Homo sapiens: one gene and its partners. The protein of the gene in region 4 purifies or fractionates together with the protein of the main gene of each other region. This does not show direct contact. Each region holds a gene or a part of one and is shown on either strand. Other genes may lie near its edges.

What was found.
Region 1: the proteins of ATP6AP2 (region 4) and VMA22 purify together in Homo sapiens (affinity purification with mass spectrometry; 5 studies listed by BioGRID and IntAct, with this or other methods). This does not show direct contact.
Region 2: the proteins of ATP6AP2 (region 4) and KIAA2013 purify together in Homo sapiens (affinity purification with mass spectrometry; 4 studies listed by BioGRID and IntAct, with this or other methods). This does not show direct contact.
Region 3: the proteins of ATP6AP2 (region 4) and ATP6V1D purify together in Homo sapiens (affinity purification with mass spectrometry; 4 studies listed by BioGRID and IntAct, with this or other methods). This does not show direct contact.

Annotation. Positions count from the first base shown.
Region 1 is NC_000002.12:130,339,164-130,346,546, forward strand, and holds the start of VMA22 (vacuolar ATPase assembly protein VMA22), read right to left. Parts: upstream 2,971-7,383; 5' UTR 2,963-2,970; coding exon 2,852-2,962; intron 2,782-2,851; coding exon 2,678-2,781; intron 2,587-2,677; coding exon 2,504-2,586; intron 1,877-2,503; coding exon 1,745-1,876; intron 600-1,744; exon of another isoform or gene 397-599; intron 70-396; coding exon 1-69. Other genes in the region: U3 small nucleolar ribonucleoprotein protein IMP4, read left to right, coding at 3,770-3,772, 3,923-4,031, 5,466-5,549, 6,213-6,322, 6,404-6,536, 6,616-6,949, 7,038-7,111, 7,193-7,305. UniProt on the Homo sapiens protein: Accessory component of the proton-transporting vacuolar (V)-ATPase protein pump involved in intracellular iron homeostasis.
Region 2 is NC_000001.11:11,923,407-11,931,162, forward strand, and holds the start of KIAA2013 (uncharacterized protein KIAA2013 precursor), read right to left. Parts: upstream 3,022-7,756; 5' UTR 2,832-3,021; coding exon 1,799-2,831; intron 84-1,798; coding exon 1-83.
Region 3 is NC_000014.9:67,349,783-67,356,804, forward strand, and holds part of ATP6V1D (V-type proton ATPase subunit D), read right to left. Parts: intron 3,259-7,022; coding exon 3,141-3,258; intron 909-3,140; coding exon 829-908; intron 1-828. UniProt on the Homo sapiens protein: Subunit of the V1 complex of vacuolar(H+)-ATPase (V-ATPase), a multisubunit enzyme composed of a peripheral complex (V1) that hydrolyzes ATP and a membrane integral complex (V0) that translocates protons.
Region 4 is NC_000023.11:40,597,968-40,604,989, reverse strand, and holds part of ATP6AP2 (renin receptor precursor), read right to left. Parts: intron 6,310-7,022; coding exon 6,256-6,309; intron 5,399-6,255; coding exon 5,249-5,398; intron 4,229-5,248; coding exon 4,109-4,228; intron 1-4,108. UniProt on the Homo sapiens protein: Multifunctional protein which functions as a renin, prorenin cellular receptor and is involved in the assembly of the lysosomal proton-transporting V-type ATPase (V-ATPase) and the acidification of the endo-lysosomal system.

The DNA of each region.
Region 1 (7,383 bases), on a different chromosome or scaffold from region 4:
CCCGGAGCTGGCTTCGACCCCAGTCAATGCGGTTCTGGAGGCTGGCTATGTCTGCGGCCAGCTGCAGGCCTGGAGGAAAGGAGAGAAGGTCACCATGGTATCTGTAGTGTAACACACGACCCAGGAGGATCTGGATATCCCCAGAAATTGGAAAGGCTTCAGGCCTCTCTGCCCCCCACACTTGTCCCAAAACATTCCAGGTACGGCCCTGCATTGGCTGCTCCAGAACCTCTGAGGCCTTACACCTCCTTCAGGTCTTTGCTAAAATGTCACCTCCTTAGACTTCCTGGACCCATTATATCACCCACCAGGAACTAAAAATTCACAGATAGTAATACCATTTCATGCCCTCATTTCCTTCCTTCCCCCATTATTACAGCATCTCTCTGCCCTCACCTGCTCTCCCTCCACTTCTTTTCTCTGTTAGTCCACACTCTGGATCCACCTCTAGATGGCTTTTGCTGATGTCTCTGCTGGAACAGCTGCTGCCCAGTCCTCCGGGCAGCTCTCGTCTTCGGCCTCCTGTTCAGCAGCAGGGCTGACCACACATTGGATCACTCGCTCCAGGAAACACTTTCTCTTCTTGGCCTCCAGGACACCTGCCCCCAGGTGTTGCTCCTCAGTTTCCTTGACTGGCTTCTCCCCTCTTCTCCCTCACCTCCCGTCCATACTCCCCAGGCCCTCTGCTGATCTCATCCTATCTCAGCTTTAAACCAGTGTTTGTGTCAAAAACTTTGGAATTTAAACACCAGTGCTATGCAGTGGACTCCCAAATCTCTCTCCAGCCCAGGCCTCTCCCAAACTCCAGATACATGTGCCCAAGTGCCCACTCAGACTCTCCAGCAGGGCGTCGGTGGATACCACACAGACCACACCAACTCCTGCCTTCTGGAATCCTCTCAGCTGCCCACAGCAGGTGAGGGTCGCTCCATCCTCCCAGGGGTTCTGGGTGGAGACCGCAGGCTCTCCTGGACTCCTTTCCTTCCCTTACTCCCATATCTTATCTGTCAGCAAATTCTGGGGCTTCTATTCTTAAAACCTGTGCAGGTTCCCACCACTTACCTCCTCCTCCAGTGACGCTATCTGCTTCTCACACTGGCTGCTCCCTGACACCTACTTCCTCCCTCTGCTCTGTGTCCCCGCCCAGCACCCAAGCATTCCTGTGACCCTGTACAGCCAGTTGCACCATCCTCTGCTCAGAGCCTCTCTGTGGGTCCCACAGTCTTCATCAGGGCTTACATCACCTGACTCCACTCTAGGCCACCGGCCTCGGCACATACCAGATATATCTGGCTTCAGGGCTTTTGTCCTGGCTGGTTCCTCCATCTAGAGCACTGTTCCCCAAAATCACCCACAAAGCTTTTCCTTCACCTCCTCAGAGAGACCTCCCCTGGCCCACTCCTGTCCCACTCCATTATGTGTTTTTCATAACAATTTTCACAGCCTGACTTATGTTAAGGGCCTACTTATTTGCACGTTGCCTTTGTCTGCTTCTAAACATTACATGAAAAGTGTTTGTCTCTTTTGTTCCCTGCTGTATCCCCAGCAGCTAGCATGAACCCGAATGCTGCCAACAACCAGTAAATGCTTTTGGAAAAAATAATGGGTGTACAACGGAAGTTTGGATGGAGGAAAACCTGCAAAGCCTTTCACAGACTAACCCCAGCCATGGCAGCAGTGCTCAAGTGTTCCCTGTGGATAGAGGGTCTGAGGGCCACAGAGCCAAACAACACGGTCCACTCACCATCCCGGAAGCTTGCTTGAGCCTGACGTAGACTGTGAGGAACTAGGATTCCAAACCAGTTCAGGGGGTCCTGAGGGGCCTCAGAGGACTCCGGTTCTGGGGTCTTAGTGGGGCCCTTGCGCCTCCGCAGACCTGAGGAAAGAAAGGTTGGAGGAGGCTGGGATCTTACTCCCTGACCTTTATCATCTTGGTGACAATGTTGAGCTTGATCTGAGCTCATGATTCTATAAAACACTGTTGGTTGGAAAATTCCAACTTTGGGGTTCCAGGAAACAGCTTACCACAAAACACAGCCTTTCCCCTTGTGATTCAGATGAGACTGTTTGTCCACTCTTTCCCGTGACTCCTGTAAGACCCACTGATGACCCTGTTTGCCTGTGACACTGATCTTACCCATTGTACCTGAACATGCCAACAGACCAGACATAGACGTTCCAACTCCCCATTCTTTGTCTCAGGATGATTAACTGGGATTAGAAGTTTGTCCCTCTGAAACTAGCTAGACACACAGATAAATATTTTCTGTTCAGCTGACTGAAATGTATGTGATTGTAAATCTATTCCCAGTGTAAAGCAACTCACCAACAATTTCTCTACTTCCTATAAAAGTCTAAGGCAAAACCACCCTACAAAAACATTCTGTTCTTCTGCTCTGGGATGCTCTCTCTTATCGCAAAAACCTAATTTAAATCATCTCCATAATTTGCATTTTGTCTTTGACACTGGGAAGGGGTTCTGCAGAAGGAAGAGGGGGCTCACCTGCTTCGCGAGGCCCCACCTCCTCTGGGGCGTGGACACCAGCTCTCACCACCTTGAACTTCTGGAGTCCCTCCTGGGCCTCGCTGAAGGACGAGAAGGGAGGATGGAGCTTTGGCAGCCCGGGCCTAGAACGCGCCCGCCCGCCCACCCAGCCCAGCATGGAAGCTTCCTCACCTGGCGTGGAGGCAGACCTGGGGCTCCATGTGGGAAGCATACTGCAGGGGCCCTACCGACTTGGCGCCCATCGCGTAGCGAGCCTTGGCGAGCGAGAGCCAGCCCTGCAGGGAGAGGAAAGCGGTGAGACTCAGTTTACGCCCGTGTACCCTCCTGCCCGCCCCAGGCGCCTACCTCCTCCACCCGGGCGTTCAACACCGTTCGTTTCCCCTCCAGCTCCTCCAGGTCCCCAAGCAGCTGCAGGACCAGCGAATCCAGCTCCGCTCGCAGGTCAAGCGCCGCCATGGACACACCTCCAGATCTGGAGCCACCTTCTTCCTTGTCACCCTCCGCAGTTTGGCAGGACAGCCAATAGGCACACGAGATCCTCCATCAAGGGGCGTTCCCATCTGGGGATCCCCACGCCGGCAGCACCAAGGCCTCTGGGTCAGCTTCTTTAAGGGCAAGCGCCCTTAGAGAAGCAGCACGGAAGCAACCAATCAACTGGTTTCTCCAATTAGCCCCCAAGTGGATCAGCCTGCTGAACTGTCGGCTAGGGTTATAGGTGGTTCTGAGTCCTTCCGGAAGCTGCCGAATCTTAGAAGTCGCGCCACTGTTGTGGCGATGGAAGAAGGCGAAGCTCTACAGAAACCATTTTGGTTGAGGGAAGAGTGGTTTTAAAGTTAATTTGGAAAGGAGCCGGCAAGCAACCTTCAGTCGGTGTGCGGTTTTTACAGTTGAACTGTTTCCAGCCGCTAATTATGATTGTTTTAGCGGTTCGTCATCTGAAAACTGCATTCTGCACGGCGGTGGTGGGGGGAGGACGAGGATGGAGAAGCCTGGGCGGACATATTTATTAGCTGCGGTCCTAAGTCACGTGTGACATTCTGTATCCAGTCTATCGGTTATCCCAAGGAGAACGCCCTGCCGGAATGGCCAATCGCCTTGAGATGTCCCCGCCCTATTCGCCATCTTAACATAGGGCATTCCCCACAGCTGCAGGCACCAGTGAAGCGTCTAAGGGACCATCTTGGTTGAGGGCGGAAGTGAGGACTGTGTCGCGCTGGAGGAGCCCACAGATTCTCCCGGACCCACGTGGAAGCGGCACTCAAGATGGTAGGAGAATGAGCTCCTGTTTCGGAGGTCCGGGGCGCGTGAAGTGCTGGGGATGTGGCTCTGGGGACTTGGAGGCTCAGCGGCTCCGGGGCTCCGGGGTTCCGGGGCTCGGGAGCGAGTAGTGAGTGACTGGGCCTGCTGTTCCCACAGCTGCGCCGCGAGGCCCGCCTGCGCCGCGAGTACCTGTACCGCAAGGCCCGGGAGGAGGCGCAGCGCTCAGCCCAGGAGAGGAAGGAGCGGCTGCGGCGCGCGCTGGAAGGTAAGGCATCGGCCCCGCGGGCGTCTGCGTGGTAAACCACCCCGGCACGCATTTGTGTTCGAATATCCGAGCGTCTTTCCAAATGCTTGCCGGCCGTTTTCCTTGCCCATTGGGTTCTCCTGTTGGTTTTGAGAGTGTTTCTTCCGTGTGATGGTATTAATTACTTGTCACTGACGTTGCAGTACCCGGGTTTTGCAGCTTGCCCGCTGTGTGCAGTGTGTCAAGTTCGTCCCAAGTTTTAAAGACTTTATCTTGTCCTGTAGAAATTCTCTTTAGAGCGGTGGCTCACTGCTGTAATCCCAGCACTTTGGGAGGCCGAGGCGGGCGGATCATGAGGTCAGGAGTTCGAGCCTGACCAACATGGTGAAATCTCGTCTCTACTAAACATACAAAAATTAGCCGGCCGTGGTGGCACGCGCCTGTAATCCCAGCTACTCAGGAGGCTGAGGCAGGAGAATCGCTTGAACCCGGGAGGCGGAGGTTGCAGTGAGCCGAGATCCTGCCACTGCACTCCAGCCTGGGCAAAAAAGCAAGACTCCGTCTCAAAAAAAAAAAAAAAAAGAAATTCTCTCTAAAGACTATCTGGATAGCGCTGGTGCTGCAGACTGCGCTGCCCATCCTCCCTGCAGGAGTTCCTCTGAGCTCCGTGGGGAACAGTGCTGGCCCCGAGTGCGCACCTGGAGCGCTGTGCTCTGCGGTAGGCAGCCTGTGGTCCAGGGCCCGCTGAAGCCATGCCTTCGAAGCGCTGTGGGCATCGTGACCAACGGTTTTGCTGTCTGAGAGCTTAAAGGTCTCTGGTCCACCATCATACGTACAGAACAGTCTATATTTCTTTTCAAAAGTAATTTTTAAGGCCGAGCGCTGTGGCTCACGCCTGTAATCCCAGCACTTTGGGAGGCCGAAGCGGGTGGATCACGAGGTCAGGAGATCGAGACCATCCTGGCTAACACGGTGAAACCCCGTCTCTACTAAAAATATAAAAAATTAGCCGGGCGCCGTGGCGGGCTCCTGTAGTCCCAGCTACTCGCCAGCCTGAGGCAGGAGAATGGCGTGAACCCAGGAAGCGGAGCTTGCAGTGAGCCGAGATGGCACCACTGCACTGCTCTGCCTGGGTGACAGAGCGAGACTCCGTCTCAAAAAAAAAAAAAATCGATGTTTAGATTTCTACCTGATTATAAAAGCAATACAGTACATTAAGATATTTTAGAAAGTCCTCAAGTCATGAGACTAAAGAAAATGAAGTCCTAGTAACCACTGTTTATGGGGGTTGGCCTGTAGAAAGTTTTGTCACCTCTATCCATGCTTTATCCAAGCTCAGAAAGGGCTGAGGTATTTTTATTTCAAGCATGTGCAGGCTAATAAGCTGTGGTGTATTGGATGAGCTGAGGTCTCCATGCTTGTGACTCACTCAGCCCCTCTCTCTTCCCTCTGCAGAAAACCGCCTGATTCCCACTGAGTTACGCCGAGAGGCTCTGGCCTTACAGGGGTCCCTGGAGTTTGATGATGCTGGAGGTGAAGGTAACTATACAAGGTAGCCCTCCCCAACACTGAGCTGGCAGGTCTCCAGTCCTTCCTCAGACACACCGGGCACCATCCCATCAGAGGAAACTGCTCCTGGAACTGTCCCCCATGCCCTTGTCACTGCACAGATGGCATTGCAGGGCTCTCCCTGAGTGTGCCCTGTCCCACTTACATGGCACACATGGGAGTGCCTCACTGACTCTGCACCTGGCTTGTTAATTACCTCCCCCACTGGAGTGCCTGCTGGGGAAAGACAGTGTCCCTCACACATTATTGGTGCCCATACGTTTATTCACTGCATTATTCAAGAAACAAGAAAGGAATCCCAAACATTATAGATATTTGTTACGAGGGAAAAGAGTTTGTCACCGTTGGCCTTAGCAGAGTGTGGATTTCGTTGTGTAATGGAGTAGCTGCTTAGCCCCATGTGACTAATATAGCTTAAGCAAACTACAATTAAACAAAAGATTCTGTTTCTCAGCCACGCTTGTGCTCAGCAGCCAGAGTAGTTGGAGGCTGCCCTCTTGCCCGGTGTGCATGTGGAGCATTCCTATTGTTGAAGGCTTCGGCAGACAGCGACATCCAGGCGGTCTTGGCTGCCCCGAAGTTAGCATTTCATTCCCAAGACTGTCATGTTCTTGCCCCTCGTGCTCCTGACAGGTGTGACCAGCCACGTGGATGATGAATACCGATGGGCAGGAGTCGAGGATCCCAAGGTTATGATCACTACCTCCCGAGACCCCAGTTCCCGCCTCAAGATGTTTGCAAAGGTACTGGTGAGCAGGGAGTGAGGGAGAGACACCCAGGACACACAGCCCCAGTCCTGACTGTACACTGCCATCCACGCCCAGGAGCTGAAGCTGGTGTTCCCGGGCGCCCAGCGAATGAACCGAGGTCGACATGAAGTGGGGGCACTGGTGCGAGCCTGCAAAGCCAACGGCGTCACCGATCTGCTGGTCGTTCACGAGCATCGGGGCACACCTGGTAAGGCCGGAGGGAGGGAGTCGGGGTGGGAGCCGTCTGAGGGCAGACGGGGTCTCTGACAGCCACCTTTCCCCGCCAGTGGGGCTCATCGTCAGCCACCTGCCCTTTGGTCCTACTGCCTACTTCACGCTGTGCAATGTGGTCATGCGGCATGACATCCCAGACCTGGGCACCATGTCGGAGGCCAAGCCCCACCTCATCACACACGGCTTCTCCTCCCGCCTGGGCAAGCGGGTGAGTCTGGGGGCCTTCAGGCTGGGGCTGCGGGCCAGGCCAGGCATTTGCCACTCTGTTTCCCTCTCTTTCCTTGTGCCCCAGGTCTCTGACATCCTCCGATACCTATTTCCCGTGCCCAAAGATGACAGCCACCGGGTCATCACCTTCGCAAACCAGGACGACTACATATCATTCCGGTGGGTCCACGGGCCATGCCCCAGGAAAGCATCCCCACCCTGTGTACCTCGTGCTGCTTGCCGTTGACCCACAGCTGTTCCCTCCCAGGCACCATGTGTATAAGAAGACAGACCACCGCAACGTGGAGCTCACTGAGGTCGGGCCCCGCTTTGAGCTGAAGCGTGAGTTTGAGGCTGAATCCCGTGTCTGGGGTGGGGAGGGGAGGCTGGCTGTGCCGGGGCTGATGCCATCCCTGCCTGCAGTGTACATGATCCGTCTGGGCACGCTGGAGCAGGAGGCCACAGCAGACGTGGAGTGGCGCTGGCACCCTTACACCAATACCGCACGCAAGAGAGTCTTCCTGAGCACCGAGTGAGCACACTCACCACTCAGTCAGGACATGGACTTGGAACTCAGGATGGGGCTGTCATAGACAGACCCACCAGTAGGAACT
Region 2 (7,756 bases), on a different chromosome or scaffold from region 4:
GCAGGAGAGCATGTAATAGAGCGTCAGGTTCACGGTGAGGCCAGACGGCGTGTGGGTGTCAGTGATCTTCTTCATTTCCACTCCTGCAACACCATGAAAGCGGCATGTTAAGGGGGAAGGACAGCTGGGAGGCAGAGCATACGAAATAAAGACCAAGGGCAGCAGAAGAGTGAGGTGTTGTGCCTTAATGATAAAGACAGTGGTGCCCATCTCCCTAAAGTATAGAAGAAAGTCAGCCTGTCTTGTTTACACGACCAACTTGAGCCTGTGGGCCTGAAATCTAGAATCCTGTTAAAAAGCAGCGGGGCCTGGTGCCAGAGCCCAGAGGAACACAGACTTAGCCAGGACTTGGCACCAACCCTATGGTCAGACATCCTGCGCCAGATCAGTCACCAGTGCTGAGGCCAGTCTCAGGCCACTTCTCCTCTCTGTCCTTTCTCTCTCCAGTCTTGTAGCTTTATGTATGTATGTATTTATTTGTTTATTGAGACAGAGTCTCACTGTGTTGCCCAGGCTTGAGTGCAGTGGAACGATCTCAGGTTACTACAGCCTCCGCCTCCCGGGTTCAAGTGATTCTCCCGTCTCAGCCTTTGAGTAGCTGGGACTACAGGTGCAGGCCACCACCCATGCCTAAAACAGCCCTGGCAGAAGCATTCAATAGACACTTGCTGAATAAACACGTGCTGGGCCCCTTTGCTACTGATGGATTCAACAGCCCTAAGATTTAAAAACATACACACACACAACTTTGTTTCTGTGAAGATGACCATCCTCTCGCCGGGCGCGGTGGCTCACGCCTGTAATCCCAGCACTTTGGGAGGCCAAGGTGGACGGATCATGAGGTCAGGTTAAGTTTTGTATTTTTAGTAGAGACAAGGTTTCGCCACGTTGGCCAGGTTGGCTTGAACTCCTGACCTCAGGTGATCCACCTGCCTCAGCCTCCCAAAGTGCTGGGATTACAGCGTGAGCCACCGCGCCCAGCCAGCACATTCTAGCCTAAAAAGATGCCTTATTTTAATTTTAATTTTCACTTTTCTAATGTCTGTCTTCCTCCCAACCAGAATTTAAGCAAGCACCATGAGAACAGGAACTCTGGTTCCCATCTGCACCCCCCCATGCATAGAACAGCCCTGGCAGAAGCATTCAATAGATACTTGCTGAATGAACTCAACTCTCTGAGCAACCAAACACAAAGGTTCAGACAATTGGAACCCTGGAAACCAAAACCCCTCTCTCATCCAGAACAGGATTTTCTTTTCTTTAACAGTCAACGAGAGGAGAGTTTTCATCGGGCGGGAGCATCTCAACCTGCTAAAAGGGATTCTCCAACCTCCCTGTGAACCAGTTGCAGCCACAACTGCCAGGACGCACCTCAGCCTAGCAGGGGTTATGTCAAGAAGCCCACGTCTGTCACCAGGCCGACTGCGGTGCTGAGCAAAGAATCAGGGGATCCACCTGCTGGTTTCACCTCTGCAAACTGACTCTAAAACACTTCACTCTGCTCACATCAGGCCCCATCTACCAAAACAAGTAACAGAAAGAATTGACCTTTACACTCAATTGTCCACTACAGTCTCATAAAAACCTTCTGAGGTAGGCGTTATTGTTATTAAATACAGGCCCAGAGAGATTAGGCGACGAATCCAAAGGTCGCACAGACACTAAGCAGTTGAGCAGATTCAACCACTGGTGAAACGCCAAGCCCAAGTTTCAACCACCCCACCATCACCTTCAGTGTCACCTCTGCAGACTTGGGAGGGACATATCTAGGGTGGACCAAGCGCTGGCCAGGACTCACCTGGGCTGAAGAGCTGAGCCCAGAGGAGCTGGTGGTCTTGAAGCAGCTCCGCCGCTGGCATGTCCAAGAGCTCCAGCATTTCCTTCCGTGCCAAGTCCTGCAGCGCCTTGAGCTCCTTGGCTGCTTTGCTTTTGAGCACCTGGGGGTTAATGGGGCCAGAGACGTGCACCACCCACAGCACCGTCTCATCCAGCTGCGTCTTGGGAGCCACTTGGAGGCGGTTCACCAGCTTCTTGGCGGCCACCACCACCAGGTGCACCAACCCAGTGGGCGTAGGCGGGGACCGGCCTGAGTAGAGGAGGAACTGATGGTCTCCGACCTTCTCCAGGGTACTGGTGAAGGCCTTGGGGGCTGGGCCGGCAGTGGGCCCCACAGTCTGCAGCGCGGCCACGCGCTCCGTGGGGTTGTTGAGCTGGATGCGCTGCAGGTAGACGTGGGGTCGGCCCCTGTGCGCCAGAAAGTCCTCTTGCAGCAGCACGCAGTCGCGGCCGGACCCCGCGGCAAGGCCAGAGACGGAGGCGGGCCCGGGGCCGGCGGCCACGGGGCCAGGACCTGGGGACCCCAGCTGCAGGCAACGCACGCGGCGCAGAAGCCCCTCCCGCAGCAGCAGCACCGCCTCTCCAGCTTCAGCCAGCGCGCTCAGCGGGCGCAGCTGCACGAAGGGCACAAAGTCCGGCGCCACGGCGGGCTCCCGCTCCCCGGGAGTCACCCACAGCCGATTGGCAGCCACGTCCAGGGCCAGGAAGCCGTTGGCCACCAGGGCCGGCACTCCAGGACCCAGCGGTACCACCTCACCGCGCTCCCGCAGGCCGCGCCAGGCGCGGGTGGCCGCCTCCAGGCAGGCAGACGGCTCGGCGGCGCCCGGCTCACCGCGGGACCAGGGCAGCAGGTGCAGGCCGCCCGCCGCCCGCCGCGCGCCGGACCCCCCAAACCACAGAAGCAGCAGCAGGAGGCCAAGCAGGCAGAGGAGGCGGCGGGCCCAGCTGCTCGACAGCAGTCCCGGCAGCCCCTTGAGCCGCTGCTGCAGCCACATCGGGCCGCCAGGCGCGGGCAAGGGTGCGAGGGCGGCCGCCGGGCCCGCCGCCCAGCCCACCGGCCCGGCCGCCCGCGCCTCACTGCCCGGCCCGGACCGCGGCGCCCACCCCGGCCCCCGCCGCAACCGCCGCAGCAGCCGCCACCCCTGCTTCCTCCTTCTTCTCGGTGGCCTCCAGCCGTCAAACGACGCCGGCGGTCAAGCGTCGCCGTGTCTTTTACGACAGATGGAAAACGGGAGGGCGGAGGGAGGAGAGAGAGCAGGCCGGAGAGAAGGGGGCGGAGCCACGGCGAGGGCGGGACAAAAGCTGCCGGGGGCGGGACCACTCGTTCCCAGGCCGGAAGAGTGAAGTCCAGTGGAGTTAAGTGCAGGGGTCTGGGGAGGACTGGAAGCATCCAATTCACTCGTGAAAAAAACATCGAGCCAGCCAAACCGAACACGTGTTGGGCCCCTTTGCTACTGATGGATTCAACAGCCCCAAAATTTAAAAACATACACACACACACACACAACAACTTTGTTTCTGTAAAAATGACCATCCTCTCGCCGCGCGCGGTGGCTCACGCCTGTAATCCCAGCACTTTGGGAGGCCAAGGCGGGCGGATCACGAGGTCAGCAGTTTGAGACCAGCCTGACCAACATGGTGAAACCCCATCTCTACTAAAAATACAAAAACTAGCCGGGCGTGGTGGCGCATGCCTGTAATCCCTGCTCCTCAGGAGGCTGAGGTAGGAGAACTGCTTGAACCCGTGAGGCGGAGGTTGCAGGCTTGCAGTGAGCCGAGATCACGCCACTGCACTCCAGCCTGGGCGACAGAGTGAGACTCTGTCTCAAAAAAAAAAAAAAAAAAAAAGACTATCCTCACTGCAAAAAAACACTTGGAACAATACGAAAAAGTGGAGGAAAAAAAAAGGAGAGAGAAGAAGAGGAAGAAAGAAGAAGAAAGGAAAAGGGAGGAGGAGGGGAAGGGGAACCACCAGAGGCCAGGAGTGGTGGCTCACGTCTGTAATTCCAGCACTTTAGGAGGCTGAGATGGGCAAATCACTTGAGGTCAGGAGTTCGAAACCAGCCTGACCAACATGGTGAAAACCTGTCTCTACTAAAAATACAAAAATTAGGCTGGGCACGGTGGCTCACGCCTGTAATCCCAGCATTTTGGGAGGCCGAGGCCGCCAGATCACGAGATCAGGAGATCGAGACCATCCTGGCTAACACGGTGAAACCCTGTCTCTACTAAAAATATAAAAAATTAGCCAGGCGTGGTGGCAGGCGCCTGTAGTCCCAGCTACTCGGGAGGCTGAGGCAGGAGAATGGCGTGAACCCGGGAGGCGGTGCTTGCAGTGAGCCAAGATCGCGCCACTGCACTCCAGCCTGGGTGACAGAGGGAGACTCTGTCTCAAAAAAAAAAAAATAAATAAATAAAAATAAAAAAATAAAAATGCAAAAATTAGCTGGGCGTGGTGGTGGGCGCCTGTAATCCCAGCTACTTGAGAGACTGAGGCACGAGAATCGCTTGAACCAGGGAGGCAGAGGTTGCAGTGAGCCGAGATCGCGCCACTGCACTCCAGCCTGGGCAACAGAGCGAGACTCCGTCTAAAAAAATAAAAAATAAAATAAAAACTAACCACCAGAAACTAGACTTCCCCAAAAATATTTTGTTAACAGACCTGTCTAGCTGCATGCACACCACACGTGGACACAAATCCAGCCAAGGGCCATCAATGTCTCCACTACACCAAATCGTCTTCTTGATGTCAGTCCTAAGTTTTAACTTATTAAATAACATAAGACACTAACGTCTCATACTTTGAAAATGGCTTTAAATTGTGAATCATCGATGCAAAAGATAAATATTGCTTTGTATTTTGGGAAAAAAATTCAATATAAGCACAGAGGCAGACAATGGGTGATTGTTTCCACTTTGGTTTCAGTACATTCCAAAGCCAGACAGTGCTTCCCAGTTGTTGGAAATTAAACGGTCATTTGAGGTGGCCTCTGGTGGGCTGTGAGCAGACACAGAAATGTTTGCTGAGGCCAGTGCCCTTTAGAAGGAACTGTCCAGGTGGTCCTACAGTCTGCTTACCATTTTTATTTTTTTTATTTTTTTTATTTTTTTTTATTTTTTATTTTTTTGAGACAGAGTCACACTTTGTCCCCCAGGCTAAAGGGCAGTGGTGCAATCTCAGCTCACTGCAACCTCTGCCTCCTAGGTTCAAGCAGTTGTCATGCCTCAGCCTCCCAAGAAGCTAGGATTACAGCCAACACACCTGGCTAATTTTTGTGTTTTTAGTAGAGACCAGGTTTCACAACATTGGCCAGCATGGTCTCAAACTCCTGACCTCAGATGATCCAACTGCCTCAGCCTCCCAAAGTGCTGGGATTACAGGCGTGAGCCACTGCGCCTGCCTTATTTATTTATTTATTTATTGAGACGGAGTTTCACTCTTGTTGCCCAGGCTGGAGTATAGTGGCGCGATCTCGGCTCACCACAACCTCCACCTCCTGGGTTCAAGCAGTCCTCCTGCCTCAGCCTCCCGAGTAGCTGGGATTACAGGAACCTGCCACCACACCTGGCTAATTTTTGTATTTTTAGTAGAGATGGAGTTTCACCATGTTGGCCAGGCTGGTCTGGAACTCCTTACTTGTGATCTGCCCACCGTGGCCTCCCAAAGTTCTGGGATTACAGGTGTGAGCCACCACCCCCAGTCCTATTTATTTATTTATTTATTTAGAGAGAGGGTCTCACTCTGTTGCCCAGGCTGGAGTGCAGTGGCACGATCACAGCTCACTGCAACCTCCATCTCCCAGGCTTAAGTGATCCTCCCAACTCAGCCTCCCAAGTAGCTAGAACTATAGGCCGTCACCATTATGCCCAGCTAATTTTTTTTTTTTTTTTGGTATTTTTTGGAGAGGCAGGTTTTTGCCACATTGCCCAGGCTGGTCTTGAGCTCCTGAACTCAAGCAGTCCTCCTACCTTGGCCTCCCAGAGTGCTGGGATTACAGGTGTGAGCCACCACACTTAACCTTCTTTATTTTTTTTTTTCAATTTTTATTTTAGGTTCAGGGAGTACATGTGCAGGTTTATTACAAGGGGATATTGTGTGATGCTGAGGTTTAGGCTTTTTTTTTTTTGAGATGGAGTTTCGCTCTTGTTGCCCAGGCTGGAGTGAAATGGCACGATCTTGGCTCACCACAACCTCCACCTCCCAGGTTCAAGCAATTCTCCTGCCTCAGCCTCCCGAGTAGCTGGGATTACAGGCGTGTGCCACCATGCCTGGCTAATTTTTTGTATTTTTAGTAGAGACAGGGTTCTCCATGTTGGTCAGGCTGGTCTGGAACTCCTGACCTCAGATGATCCACCTGCCTCAGCCTTCCAAAGTGCTGGGATTACAGGCGTGAGCCACCGTGCCCAGCCTTAAGGTACTGCACTCCAGTCTGGGAGACAGAGTGAGACTCTGTCTCAAAAAAAAAAAAAAAAGAAAGAGGACATTTTATTATGATTTATTTTTACTATTATTATTATTAGGGAGGCTTAAGTGCTAGTGAGAGGTGATCATCCATCTAGCAGCACAGAATATGGCCATCCTACCGAAGCCCTTGCTCTTCCTGGGGCCAAAAAAGGAAATGAATAAAAGAAAAGGATGAAAATGAGAAAAGCCCCTCATGTCACCGGGCAGCTGCCCTCCAGGCCAGCTATCCTTTCTACACCTTCCCTAGAAATCTGAGTCCTGCGCCTTTAACTGTCCACAGCACGTGCAGCACGTACCAGAAGTAACATCTGGACGGCAGCCACCACTGGTTAAAGAGACAGGCCCCCTTTCTCCATGAAGCTTGGGCAGGGTTCAAGTTTCAGCAATTTGGTGAAGGGAACAGGAAACAGATACCAAAGGAGGAGAGGGCAGGCTTTGCCAGAGTGAATCCTTTCTCCCAGAGAGGCCAGCAGCCTCCAAGATTGATTCCCCCTCCTGACTTAAAATGACTTTTGGGCATGGGACTCCCACTGCCCAAGGGGTTTTTTCTTTTCCTTTTTTTTGAGACAGAGTCTTACTCTGTAACTCAGGCAGAAGTACAGTGGTACAATTACGGCTCACTGCAGCCTCAACCTCTTGGGCTCAAGTGATCCTCCCACTTCAGCCTCCTGAGAAGCTGAGATTACAGGCGCACACCACCATGCCCTCCTAATTTTTTTTGTGGAGACGGGAGGTGGGTGGGGGCGGAGGGACGGGTCTATGTTGCCCAGGCTGGTCTTGAACTCCTGGTCTCAAAGGATCCTCCCACCTCAGCCTCCCAAAGTGTTGGGATTACAGGCGTGAGTCATGGCACCTGGCCTCAAGGTTTTGTTTTTTTTTTCTATTCATAGTACATCACCATTGAGGTTCTCCTTGGACTACAGCAAATGGAGGGTTAGAGCTGGGTTCCAATGCTGCCTCCCTTACTGTAGTTCTGCATCAGTTGTGTGGCGTCGAGCAGATTGCTTCACTTCTCTGGGTCTGTTTTCTCATTTTGCAAATGGGGCAATACTGTTTAATTAGCAAGGCTGTTGCGAGCAGGGAATGAGGGAGAGTTTTGAAAACTGAACCAGGGGCCGGGAGCATTGGCTCACACGTGTAATCCCAGCACTTTGGGAGGCTGAGGAAGGCAGATGTCTTGAGCTCAGGAGTTTTAGACCAGCCTGGCCGACATTGTGAAACCCTGTCTCTACAAAAAAAAAAAAAAAAAAAAAAATTAGCCAGGCAAGGTGCATGCCTGTAGTCCCAGCTACTCAGGAGGCTGAGGTGGGAGAATCACCTGAGCCCAGGAAGTTGAGGCTGCAGTGGGCTGTAATCACACCACTGCACTCCAGCCTGGGCAGCAAAGTGAGACCCTGTCTCAAAAAAAAAGAGAACATGGAACCAGCCAACAAATGCTCATTCTCCTCCCTCTGC
Region 3 (7,022 bases), on a different chromosome or scaffold from region 4:
GATTGATCTCCACCCTCTGCTAGAAAATTCAATGCAAGCTGTGATCTTACCAGCACTGGCAAAAATGAAAGCCTACCACTTCAAAGGGCCTTATTAAGGCCCAAGAGCAGTGAAAGCTCCTAGATAATAGGCATCATGTCATTAGGAAAATAATAAAATCAGAAACCTTGAAAACAACTTCTGCCTCTGCCCCTAATTAGCCAAGTGACCTCAGGAAGGCATTTAATTAAAACTGAGAATAACAATGCTTGCCTTACCTATCTCATAGTGTTATTTGGAGAATTACATAACATATGTAAATTGGCATAACACATTTGCAAGCTATTTTGTATGCTTTGTAAAGGATTTACTGATGTCACCAAAGCCATGAAGTTCATGCCTTTTAAATAATCCAATTCTCAAAAATTTATCCTACGGGAATAATTCAGTAGAAACAAAAATACATATGTGTAAAAATGTTCACTGCACTTTCCCTAATATTCCAAAAAACTGAGAATTAACCCAAATACCCAGCATTAGGAGAAAAAAAAAATACATCTTGAGAAAGATCATACAGCCATGTTGAAAATAAGGAAAAATGTTTATGATACAACGTTAAATGAAAATGGACTCTAAAATACTAAGTATCCTGCGCCTGCAACTATGTAAGAATTACATGTGGAAGATGACAGTGGAGTTAAGGTGATGGGGTTAAAAGAATTCTTTCTTATTATTACTATATCATTTGTCCTTAACGCTTATTTCTAAATTAAAAAATGCTTTTTAAATGAAATTATGAGACTGAAATCACTTTGTTTTGCTTCAAAACACCCCGTTTAGTCCCCTTACCTGAAGTCACCTGCTGTGAACTTGGCTTCAGCTAGTGAAAAGGCAGCTTCTCTCATCACTTCGCCCATCAACATTTTAGTCTGGAAAAGCATAAACCAACAGCAGATTCAACCAAGCCTTTTACAAGGAAATATTCCATCATAATTATGTTCCTTTAATAACCATCAGTATTTTATGCTGGCTGTGCATGTAAATATTGGTTTGATAACGACAAACAGAAATTTCCAATTTTTAACAGTTTTGGTTATGATCACTAACAATATTACAAACTATGAGTTTTATAATTAAAACAGAATAAATGCATTGAGAAACAGAAAACTGAATCTTTACTGAAGGACCTATATTATTCCTGAATGGGTACATGCTGATTTACTCAAACTAATCTCTTAAATTCACTGCAGTTGCAGTCAAAACCCTAATGGTGTATTAATTTTAAAGTACATCTGGAATATTTAATGTTTGAGAATATTCAATAATGTTTCAGAAAGAGAAGAAAAACTGGGTCAGCTGGGTAGGGAGTTGCCTTCCCAAGTATTAAAAAGGTACAGCTACAATAAGGAAATATTAATATATCTGGTTTGGGACAGTTAAGTCAATGAAATAGACTAGAGGATTCAGAAACAACCCCAGGTCTATATGGAAATTTAGTAAAGAGACCACTCTACTGTCTATACAGTACAAAATGATAAAGCTACCTACCTCACATCATACTGCCCCCAAAATTCAGACATAATTAAGATAAAGGTTTAAAGAAAAAAAACTGTAAAGCAACAAAAGAAAATGTGGCATAATATTTTCTTAATCATTTTAGGTCTTTTCTAAGCCTTATATGTAACTCAGAAGCTATATAAAGAAAAAGACCAACAGATTTGACCAAAGGAAAAACATTTTTAACTTTTTATTATTTTTATTTTTTGAGACAAGGTCTTACTTTGTTGCCTGGGCTAGAGTACAGTGGTGTAATCATAGCTCACTGCAGCTTCAAACTCATAGGCTCAGGCAATCCTCCTGCCTCAGGCTCCCAAGTAGCTGGGACTACAGGTGCATGCCACCACACTCTGCTAATTTTCTTCTTCTTCTTCTTCTTTTTTGTAGAGACAAGGTCTCACTGTGTTGCCCAGGCTGGTCTCAAATTCCTGGGCTCAAACCATCCTCCCACCTCGGCCTCCCAAAGTGTTGGGATTACAGGCATGAGTCACCACACCTAGTATTAACTTTTTTTTTTAAGTTAAAAGAAAAGGCGTGGAAAAAATATTTTTAACATTTTACACATTAGGCAGAATACACATAGAACCTCTACCAAAAAAAAAAAGAAGACATTTACCAAGAAAATCAAATTGTCAATAAGCATGAAAAGCTCCTTAACTTCACAAATAATCAAAAGTAGTACAGGGCCAGGCACAGTGGCTAACACCTGTAATCCCAGTGCTTTGGAAGGATGAGGTGGAATGATCACTTGAGCCCAGGTGGTTGAGACCACCCTGGGTAATAAAGCAAGACCCCATCTCCACAAAAAATAAAAAAATAAAAATAAAAACAGCACTCATAGAAAATGCTTTTGTTAAGTACGTACAGGTTTAAAAATAAAACACAAAAACTGTAAACTCAGCACTTTCGGAGGCCAAGATAGAAAGACTGTTTGAGCCCGGGAGTCAAAAAGACTAGCCTGGGCAACATAGTGAGACCTCGTCTCTACTAAAAATAAAAAAAATGAGCTGAGAATGGTAGCATGCACCTGTAGTCACAGCTACTCGAGAGGCTGAGGTGGGAGGATCACTGGAGCCCAGTTTGAGGCTGCAGAGTAAGACCTTGCCTCAAAAAAAAAAAAAAAAGAAAAAGACTAGAAATAAAATGTCATACCATGCGGTAGTACATGCTACAATAAAATTAAAATAAGGAATTGTGAGAGAAGCAAACATGGTGTTCACTTTAGATTGGGTGATCAGGAACAGCCTCTCTTAAGAGACTAGAACAGCTAAAGGAGCCAGTTATAAGTTCTGGGGAAAGAGTATTTCAGGCAGGAGAAAGAGCTAATGAAAAGTACCTGGAGGACCTTAGGAAGAATGCTCTAAATAAGGTAAGAGAGGCAGGCGGGGGGCCAATCAGATCAAGTGGAGCTTTGCAGGCAAGATTAAAGAGTTTGGATTTTATTAAATGAACTATTTGATATTTGACACTTGTTAAACTTATAATGGTATTTTTACTTTTGAAAGAAAAAAATTAATTAAAATAACAACAACAAAAAAAAAAATGCCAAGGGCCATGCTGGATTTTTCTAAAATAAATACTATTCTAAGAAAAGTTCATTCTACCTCTATTATCTTCTTTAGGATCTGTCGAAATCGAAGAGTTAAGGCATCAGATTTTTTCTTCAGGAGGTTTCGACCTGTCTGTGCTCCCTTTAAACGAGCCTTCATGATGGTCTGTGCCCTATATAAACATAAACAAAGTTAAGACATCTATTCTCATTGTTTAAAAGACAAAAAAAACCCTCCCCACCAGTGTTAAAATTATCCTTTATCCTTTGATGTGATGAAAGTGAGACTATATAGAGAATTTGTAGCTGACAGGTTTAACTGATGCTATGGTTTGAATATGTCCCTAATCTTCATGTGTTGGAAACAATCTCCAATGCAACAATGTTGGGAGGTGGGACCATCAAGAGATGACTGGGTCATCTGGGATCTGCCCTCCATGAATGGATTAACGTCATTATGGTAAGACTGGGTTCCTTATTGCAGGAGTGGGTTGGTTTTAAATGTGAGTTCATCTGGGTACACCTGTAATCCCAGCTACAGGTGTAAGTGGGAGGATCCCTTGAGCCTGGGAGTTCAAGTCCAGCATGGGTAAGATAGTAGCAAGACTCCTTTTGTTGTTGTTGTTGTTGTTGTTTTTGAGATGGAGTCTCACTGTGAGGCCCAGGCTGGAGTGCAATGGCGCGATCTCGACTCATTGCAACCTCCACCTCCCAGGTTCAAGCAATTCTCCCACCCCAGCCTCCCAAGTAGCTAGAACTACAGGCGTATGCCACCAAGCCCAGCTATATTTTTTTGTATTTTTAGTAGAGACAGGGTTTCACCATACTGACCAGGCTCATCTCGAACTCTTGACTTTAAGTGATCTGCCTGCTTCAGCCTCCCAAAGTACTGGGATTACAGGGATGAGCCACCATGCCCGGCCCGACTCCTTATTTTTTGAGATGGGGTCTTGCTCTGTCACCCAGGCTGGATTGCAGTGGTATGATCATAGCTTGCTGCAGCCTCTAACTCCTGGTCTCATGAAATCCTCCAGCCTCAGCTTCCCAAAGTGCTGGGATTATGGGCATGAACCACTGCACCTGACCCTGTCCCTTTAGAAAAAAAAAAAAAGGCATGTTCGACCCTTTCTTGCTTTCTCTCTCACCCTCGCCTTCTGCCATGGGATAACACAGCAAGAAGGCCCTCACCCTTCTCAGCCTCCAGAACCATGAACCAAATAAATTTTTTTCTTTATAAATTACCCAGTCTCAAGTATTGTTATAGCAGCAGAAAATGGACTAAGACAACTGGTTTTCCAATAATGTAGATTTCTACCATCAGTGTTCCATAAATGAAAAGTTTATTAATTTACAACAGAAACAATTTTATAATCAATATCTGGAATATTTATTAAATCATCATAAATGTTATCAGGAGCCTTATTTTATGATGCCAACATAGTTTAAATACTTATTTGATTTGTAAGTTAAAATAATATCTTTGTTTTAGTTTCCACTGGAGGTATATTAAGGATTTAAAAATCTATCCACTAATATATATCAAAATTTTAAATGCAATTATTTTCAAGACCAACAATTCCACTTTGCGGAATTTATCCTACAAATTTATTCCCACATGTGTACAAAAACACGTGCAAGGTTTAAAAGATGGGTACTCCAGCCTTATGGTAATAGCAAAAGGGAGAAACAAGCTAAATGCTAAATACATCAGAGTTCACCTATGATGGAATGATATACAGTCATTAAAAAAGACGAAGGTATATAGGCATGTGCTGTCTATATAACAGTCTTATTTATGCAAAGTAAGGAAAAAATGTGCTTATATAGATGCAGAGAATAGTTCTAGAAAGGATTCACAAAAACTGGCAAGAGTTACCTTTGATAAATGGGACTGGATGAAAAATATGGATTTACTTTTTACTACTATATTCTTTTGTACCTTTTGCATTTTATTTTATTTTTTGAGGTGAAGTTTCACTCTTGTTGCCCAGGCTAGAGTGCAATGGCGCGATCTCGGCTCACTGCAACCTCTGCCTCCCAGGTTCAAGCGATTCTCCTGCCTCAGCATCCCGAGTAGCTGGGATTACAGGCATGCGTCACCATGCCTGGCTAATTTTTTATTTTTAGTAGAGACAGGTTTCTCCATGTTGGTCAGGCTGGTCTCGAACTCCTGACCTCAGGTGATCCGCCCACCTCGGCCTCACAAAGTGCTAGGATTACAGGCATGAGCCACCGCACCTGGCCTGCATTTTTTATACCACAATAATTTACCACATTTTCTATTAAAAGTGTGGTATTAACATGTTTTGATATCATCAATCAAGATCCTAACAGCAATCATTTTATTAATTTGTAAAAGACTAGGTAACAAATGACATACGTAAGATTCCTGAGAAATGACAAGCTAAATTTACACTGAAGTCTCCTCACTTCCTTGTTTCAATTTTTTTCCCCATCAGAAGCCCCAATACCAAAGTCAAGCAGAAACTGACATTTCTGTTCTTGCTGCCATATGCCAGATACAATTTAATAATGAAAAAAGTGGAGCCCAGTTCGAGGATGTAGAAGTAAGACCCTGTCTCAAAAAAAAAAAAAAAAAAAAAAAAAAAAAAAGACTAGAAATAAAATGTCATACCATGCAGTAGTACATGCTACAATAAAATTAAAATAAGGAATTATGACAGAAGCAAACATGGTGTTCACTTTAGATTGGGTGATCAGGAACAGCCTCTCTTAAGAGACTAGAACAGCCAAAGGAGCCAGTTATAAGTTCCGGGGAAAGAGTATTTCAGGCAGGAAAAAGAGCTAATGAAAAGTACCTGGAGGACCTTAGGAAGAATGCTCTAAATAAGGTAAGTGGTACAGTGGCTTATGTCTATAATCAGCACTTTGGGAGGCTAAGGTGGGTAGATTGCTTGAGTTCAAGACCAGCCTGGGAAACAAGGTGAAACCCTGTCTCTACAAAAAAAAAAAAATATCAAAATTACCTGGGCATGGTAGGGCACACCGGTAATCCCATATACAAAGAAGGCTAAGGTGAGAGGACTGATTGAGCCCAGGAGGTTGAGGCAGTGAGCTGTGATCATGCCACTGCACTGCAGCCTGGACAACAGAGCAAGACTCGGTCTCAAAAAAACAAGTGTTTGGGTAATAAAATTCAACAATAAGGTTGTATAACCTAGACACAGTATAACCTAGACACAGTGATTTAAGGGGATATAATTTCATATGACTGGTGTTTTAAAATCGCATGTACTAATAAACTTTTTTGGCCAGGTGCAGTGGCTCACACCTGTAATACCAACACTTTGGGAGGCCGAGGCAGGTGGATAACTTGAGGTCAGGAGTTCGAGACCACCCTGGCCAACATAGTGAAACCCCATCTCTACCAAAAAATACAAAAATTAGCTGGGTATGGTGCTGCATCCCTGTGGTCCCAGCTACTCAGGAGTCTGAGGCACAAAAATCACTTGAACCTGGCAGGCAGAGGTTGCAGTGAGCCAAGATCGGGTCACTGCACTCCAGCCTGGGCAACAGAGGGAAAACCTGCCTCAAAAAAACAAAAACAAAAAAAAAAAAACAAAAACAAACAAACACCATTTGGCCAAATTCTTAAATTATACTGGAATCTTTTACCATAGGGCTAAGATCACTAAGACAATTCTATAGCTGAAAGGGACTTTAGACATTAACTTAAAGATTAGAAAAATGAGGCTTAGAAAAGTAAAACAACTTTCTCAAAGTTACTCAGTGAAGAAAAGGCAGGGCAGGGACTTGAACCAGACTTTTGATTCCACTGACTTTCCCAATGCTCAAACTAAGGCTCCAACCTACGTTCACTGTACCCCAAACATGTGCCTCCCCTTAAAGAGAACAATTATCACTGGCTGACTCTGCACTGACTGGTCTCACAAGAGGTCTTATCAAGTGAAGGTCG
Region 4 (7,022 bases):
TGCACTCCAGCCTGAGCAACAAGAGCAAAACTCCGTCTCAAAAAAAAAAAAAAAAAAATCATCAACAGAATGGAATTGTGGTATATCCCTACAAGCAGAATATGTAACAGTAAAATGACTAAACTACAGCTACATTTGTCAGCCTGAGTGAATCTTAAAAAGAATACTGAACAAAGAACACAGAAAAATACATGTAGTATGATTCAATTTATATAAAATTCAAATACAGGCAAAACCAAACAACACTGTTTAAGAACAAATACATATGCAGTCAATCTGTAAAGAAAAGCAAGGGATTAACATGATATCCAGGACAGCAGTTACCTCTGGATGAGGGAGGGTAGAGGGAGAAAATAGGGAGCTTCAAAGAAGCAAGCATTCTCTTAAGCTATTGATATGGTTTGGCTCTGTGTCCCCACCCAAATCTCATCTCGATTTGTAATCCCCACGTGTCGAGAGAGGGACCTGGTGGGAGGTGATTGGATCATGGGGGCAGTTTCCCCCATACTGTTCTCATGATACTGAGTTCTCATGAGCTCTGATGGTTTAAAAGTGTGCCACTTTCTCTCTCTTTTGCCACCTTGTGAAGAAGGTGCCTGCCTCCCCTTCCCCTTCCTCCATGATTGTAAGTTTCCTAAGGCCTCCCCAGCCATGTGGAACTGTGAATCAATCAAACCTGTTTCCTTTATAAATTACCCAGTGTCAGGTAGCTCTTTATAGCCATATGAAAACGGAGCTATACAGTGTTATTATTTTTATTATTTAAATAACTAGTATTAAATATGTTATATACTTATGTATGTATGATCCACTTAACACTTTTTTTTAAAATACAGAGCTGTGTAAAAACATTGTTTGGGAAACTGAATTCATTCTGACAAAGGCACTGTTTGGGAAATATCATTCATTCTGGCTAGAGAATTTTAAAAGTAGGAACACAGCAGGAGATGAAGCTAGAAGCAGGGAAGCTACAGAAAATCTGACATGAGCCTCTGGGCAATAAGGAGCCATTGACAAGCTTTAGGCAGAAAGTGAGTGACATGATCAGGTTTGTCTTAAAAAGATAACATTAAAATTAAAAATTAGCTGAGTGTGGTGGCTCAAGCCTATAGAACTGGCTACTCAGGAGGCTCAGACAGGTGGATCACCTGAGCCCAGGAGTTTGAGGCTACAGTGAGCTATGATTGCGCCACTGCACTCCGGCCTGGGACAGGGCGAGACCCTGTCTCAAAAAAAGAAAAGAAAAAAGATAACTTTGATGACAATGTGTAGGATGGATTTGGGAGGAGCCAGCTGGGAAGCAGAGAGACAGATGAGTTCAGACAAGTTAGGAGGCGGCAGTCAAATGAGGTGGGAGAAATGGGGGCAGGGTGCCTGGCAGTGAGGATGAGAACGAAAATGTAACCGAGATCTATTTGTCCCTACAGCCCCAGCACCTGGAATGTTGTGAGTACTCAGTAAATGTTCCTTAAACTCCTGTCTCCTTAAACTAATGGAAGAGAGTGATTTCAAATGTAGGAGAGAATGGGTACACAGGCATGCATATTTACCTGCGGGGAGCTCAGAGCTGAGGCAAACGTTAAAGGATTTCACGCCCATGAAGACCTCTTTGTTTCTTTCCTTTTTTTTTTTTTGATAAACATGTTCTTTTTCCTACCCATTTTAAGTGTACAAGTCAAGGAATTTTAGTGGTTTCATAGTTATCACCACAATCTAATTCTAGAACATTTCTATCACCCTAAAAAGAAATCTCATAGGCCGGGCATGGTAGCTTACACCTGTAATCCCAGCACTTTGGGAGGCTGAGGTGAGCAAATCACTTGAGGCCAGGAGTTCAAGACCAGCCTGGCCAACATGGTAAAACCCCATCTCTACTAAAAGTACAAAAATTAGCCGGGTGTGGTGGTGCATGCCTGTGATTCCAGCTACTCAGGAGGCTGAGGCAGGAGAATCACTTGAATCTGGGAGGTGGAGGCTGCAGTGAGTTGAGATTGTGCCACTGCACTCCAGTCTGGGTGACAGAGTAAGATCCTATCTCCAAAAAATCCAAAAAAAAAAAAAAAAAAAAAAAAAAAAGAATTCTCTGGGAGGCATCCCCACTCTCAACACATGTGCTGACCACCCAGAGCCCAGGTGCCTTTCTGTTTCCCTGTGCTGGTGGGCAAAAATTTCCAGTCTACCCTCTCACTGAGGGCACAGCTCTCTCGGGGTCCCCAGCTTTATCTGGAGTTGTCCATTCCCATCCCCCACACACAAGGCACCAAAGGACTCTTGGTGACCCAGCTGGCAAATATCCTTAGGGCGGCCTGCTTACCACATTCGGTTTTTTTTTTTTTTTTTGAGATGGAGTCTCACTGTGTCACCCAGGCTGGAGTACAGTGGCACAATCTCAGCTCACTGCAACCTCCGCCTCCCGGGTTCAAGCGATTTGTCTGCCTCAGACTCCTAAGTAGCTGGGACTACAGGCGTGCGCCACCACGCCCGGCTGATTTTTTGTGTTTTTAGTAGAGACGGAGTTTCACCATGTTGGCCAGGCTGGTCTCGAACTCCTAACCTTGTGATCCACCCACCTCGGCCTCCCAAAGTGCTGGGATTACAGGTGTGAGCCACCGCACCCGGCCTCCTCTTCTTTATTTACTCTGTAAGAGAATTTCCCTTTCTTGCGAGCTGAACTATGTATTTTTATTTTTGTAATTTTTTTTTTATTTGAGACGGAGTCTTGCTGTGTCTCCCAGGCTAGAGTGCAGTGGTGCAATCTTGGCTCACTGCAACCTCTGCCTCCCGGGTACAAGCAATTCTCCTGCCTCAGCCTTCCAAGTAGCTGGGATTACAGGTGCCCGCTACCACACCAGGCTAATTTTTGTATTTTTAGTAGAGACGGGGTTTCACCATGTTGCCCAGGCTGGTCTAGAACTCCTGGCCTCAGGTGTTCCGCCCGCCTCAACCTCCCAAAGTGCTGGGATTACAGGCGTGAGCCACCACACCCAGCCCAAACTATGTACTTTTTAAAAGATCTTTATTTTTATCTAGCATTTCTAGACGTTTTATGGTGGGAAATCTTGGGTGGTTGTCTAGACTGACATGCTGTCTGAAACAAAGGTCCTTCCATCCCCAATTTAATTTAGAAAGAAACAATCTCAAACCAGTAATCGCTAGACTATCTCAAACAGGCACTGGCTTCGACCTTCCGACTCCAAGTCCCACACTGACTTCAGTAAAACTGAGCAGGGTGAGGGCTGCAAATGGGTCTGAAGCGGAGGTGTATGTAATTGAGTGGATATCTATCTGCTGCAAGTGATACAGCCAGCCCTAAGCAATGTTCTCAGACGTAGGATGTTAGGGAGCATCTACACTACTCTTTCCCATCACCCTCCCTAGGTTCTGCTGCAGCTGTAAGTATATATGTATGTATGTAAATGTGCACGTACATACACATAAACAGATATGTATTTTACCATGGCCAGCAACCATGGTAATGCTTAACCCTGACCCTCTAAATGCTTAAAATCAAAGCAAGATCCATACCCAAAAAAACTGTTAAGTAAATCAAAATCATAAAGAGGTGCACACAGAGGATCTCAGTAAGTGAGGGACTACGCCACAAAGACAATGTGCCTGCTAGAAAAGCAGAGCCCATAGGATGTGGGCACCACACCACTCCCGCACACATTCACTTCTTTTTGTTTTCAAAACAGGGTCTTGCTATGTTTCCTCAGACTGGCCTCAAACTCCTCCTGAGCTAAAGCAATCCTCCTGCCTTGGCCTCCTGAGAAGCTGCAATTACAGATGCACGCCACTGCACCTGGCGCCACATTAACTTCTGATATCTCCTTGTGTGTACTGATATTTGAATTATAATCTTGGACAGATTTACTTTTATCCCTAATTCAAATTCTTGCATTATCTGATTATAACCCTAAAGAACTGATCATCACTGGCAAAGCACACATATGTATGTGAACAAGAAGCTTACGTTTTAACTGAAATTGTTTTTCAGATTTACTGACTGCTCATTCATGTCACCCTTAGGTGATATAGGACTTGGTTTTTTTTTTTTTATAAGAAGTTAATTTTACAGTTTTAAAGCAGGATCTCAAAATATACTCACCGCTTGTTTTGCCTCAAGGATAGTCCTTGTCTTCCTAATGAGGGAGGTGTCAAATGACTTGACAGTGACTAACTCTACCACTGCATTCCCACCATAAAGACTGTACATGTCATCTGCAAACTGAAAGTTAGTTATTAACATTATTGGGAATCTCAACTATGTACTTTTTTCATTTTTAATTAACAAATTAAAATCATATATATTTATCACATCAACATATTGTTTTGAAATATGTACACATTGTGGAATGGCTTAAGTCCACATTGGCTAATTAACATATGCATTACCTCCTACTTATCATTTTATGCAGTGAGTCAAATACATACTTATTAAAATTATTTTTAAAGCTTTTGTGCAGCTACAAGAACAATGTACACTTACCTCCTGGCTCATGAAATATACTACATCTTACAATAAGCAAGTCTTAAAGGTTTTGATTTTGCTCAACTATACAGAAAAGTGTTAAGCTTTAACATATATTCAAATGTTTAGACTAAAATTACTTTAAGAAGAGACTGAATTTGTCAGCATATAAATTGGAGGAAGGGAAGTTGGAAAGAGAAATGAAATCTTCCTAAGTGGTCTCTGGTTAATCACAAACATCTATAAAGATTAAAATATGAAGCCTCACTGAAAGGATGCAGGTGAAGAACTTCAAGGGCAGAGGGGAACTAGCATTTATTATGCATCTACTGTCTGGTACTGTGCTGGGTGTTCTACTTCAGTTATCTCATAGTGTTTAAGGAGTACAGAGTTTCAGTTGGGGAAGAAGAAAAAGTTCTAGAAATAGAAGATGGTGATGGTTGTACAACATGTGAACGTACTTGCACTTAATACCACTGAACTGTACAATTAAAAATGGTTAAAGTGGTAATTTTATGTTATATATATTTTACCACAATAATTTTGTAAAGCTTTGTGTGAGATAACTTTTCCTAATGCTGTTCTTTCTAGCATTAGGAAGAAATATATCAATATACATTTTTGACCCTACTCCATCCTTGGCCAGTATAATTAGAGGAGCCCCAAAGAAGGCAAATAAGAGTTCAATCAACAGTGTTTGAAACAGCAGATTTTTCTATTAAGAGGCTAAAAGTGAAATGGTCATACTCCAACCTCTCATGTCGCATTGATATTTACCTTTTGCAGAGCGTCAACAAGGATCTTAGAAGCATCTCTGAATTGTTCAGAGTCTTCCCCATAACGCTTCCCAATTTCATCCAAACCTGCCAGCTCCAGTGAATATAAATCAGGAGAATGATCCTTGGCTAGATGCTTATGACGAGACAGCTTAGGAGAACAAACAAACAAAAAAAGGTAGCGGATAAAGTAAGATGAAAGACGTCAAACACAGCCAGTTAAAGTTTTATGCCTAACTAAACTAGGCTAAACTAAACCATACCAGTGTACCACAACATGCAAATAGTCTAAAATGGTGGCAAAAGAAACTGGTTTGAATAAGCGTTTCTGATAAATCCAACACGAATCTCATGTTTAGGAGCAGTACAAGACTCCTTGGATATTTAATAAAAGCTTTCAACAAAATTCCTCAGTTTTAAAAACTCAGGTATGGGCCAACGTATGAAAGAACAGATGGCTGGACCAGTTTGATCCCAGGAATGCACTACACTTCCAGACTCCCCGAACCAACACCTGTTGAAAAAGTTTGGAAAACAACTTCAGAAGGTAGCAAACAGATAAGAATTTCTATTTCAGTAACAAGGATGATTTTTAAAAAATCATTCACCAAAAAAATACCCTTCAGACGGATTTCGTCCCTTCTTGACTTGACTGACAGCATTATTAGTCCAAACTATTATTTCTATTTTAGGCCCAAAGATATAGATAGGAATTAAGTCTCACAAGAAATCAACAGCCAAGTTAGGACTATGGCCAGGGTGTTCTTACGCCCAGGCTTGTGTTCTTGGAAGATATGTTGTCTCTCCCTAAAAAGCAGAAATGCAAAATAATTTGACTATAACATGGATGTGTTCAAAATTCCCAATATTGCCACTAATTTTTCAATTTTCATGGGATCATAAATCTAGGGCATACTTAATCAAACTTTTCAACTGCCTTTACTATTATTCAAGGATTCTCTAGAAACCAAAATAAATGGAATTAAAAAATTAGAGCAGCCTACTTACCAAGCTTGAAATATCATGTAGCACTTGCAGTTCAGAAAGAAAGAGCAGGTCAACCTTCAGAGAGCCCAAAAAAAAAGAGCATTCTTTTAAATGTGCACCAGAGATCTTTATTTGCCATTTACCAAGCAAGGCACAGGATATTACAAATGTTGATCATATAAGTGAATTTATATAATTATCTTCCATTTGGTATGTTTGCTTCAATTGAAAATGCATATAAAACATTATTTCCTAACAAAAAGGTGATGGCCATTCCCTAGCACAGTGACTGCCACTCAATAGCTATATTTTTGGCAAAACCATGATAAAGCATCCAAGTTCTCCAGTGGTTTTCCTTCAAAGCATCAGGATATCCTGGCACTCTGCAATGACATCCTACCATTGGCCCAGTTTGCTCACTTCCCTTGAATAGTTTCCACATCAGAGAATAAAGGATGATGGCCCTGGTCATCCACAGCAAATAAAAAGGGGAGGCCACCACGAAAGTGGCATGCCACATGGTTAAGAGGGCGCATGAGCAGATGGAGAAACTGAAGGACAGGAGTCAAAAGTAGAGGTGGCTCCCTCCACTGCAATGTCCAGAATGAATGAGAAAAATGTGGCAACAAATCAGCAGAGGCAGTGAACAATGGCTTCCAAGTTACCAGATCCACACAGCTCCACCAGTCACCAAGTAGATCTATGACCTCTGGCTTGTTTGAATTAATAGGTGGCAACCCTCGTGCTAAAATGTGATGTTATTTACCACAGCTCAACTCACAAAAAGG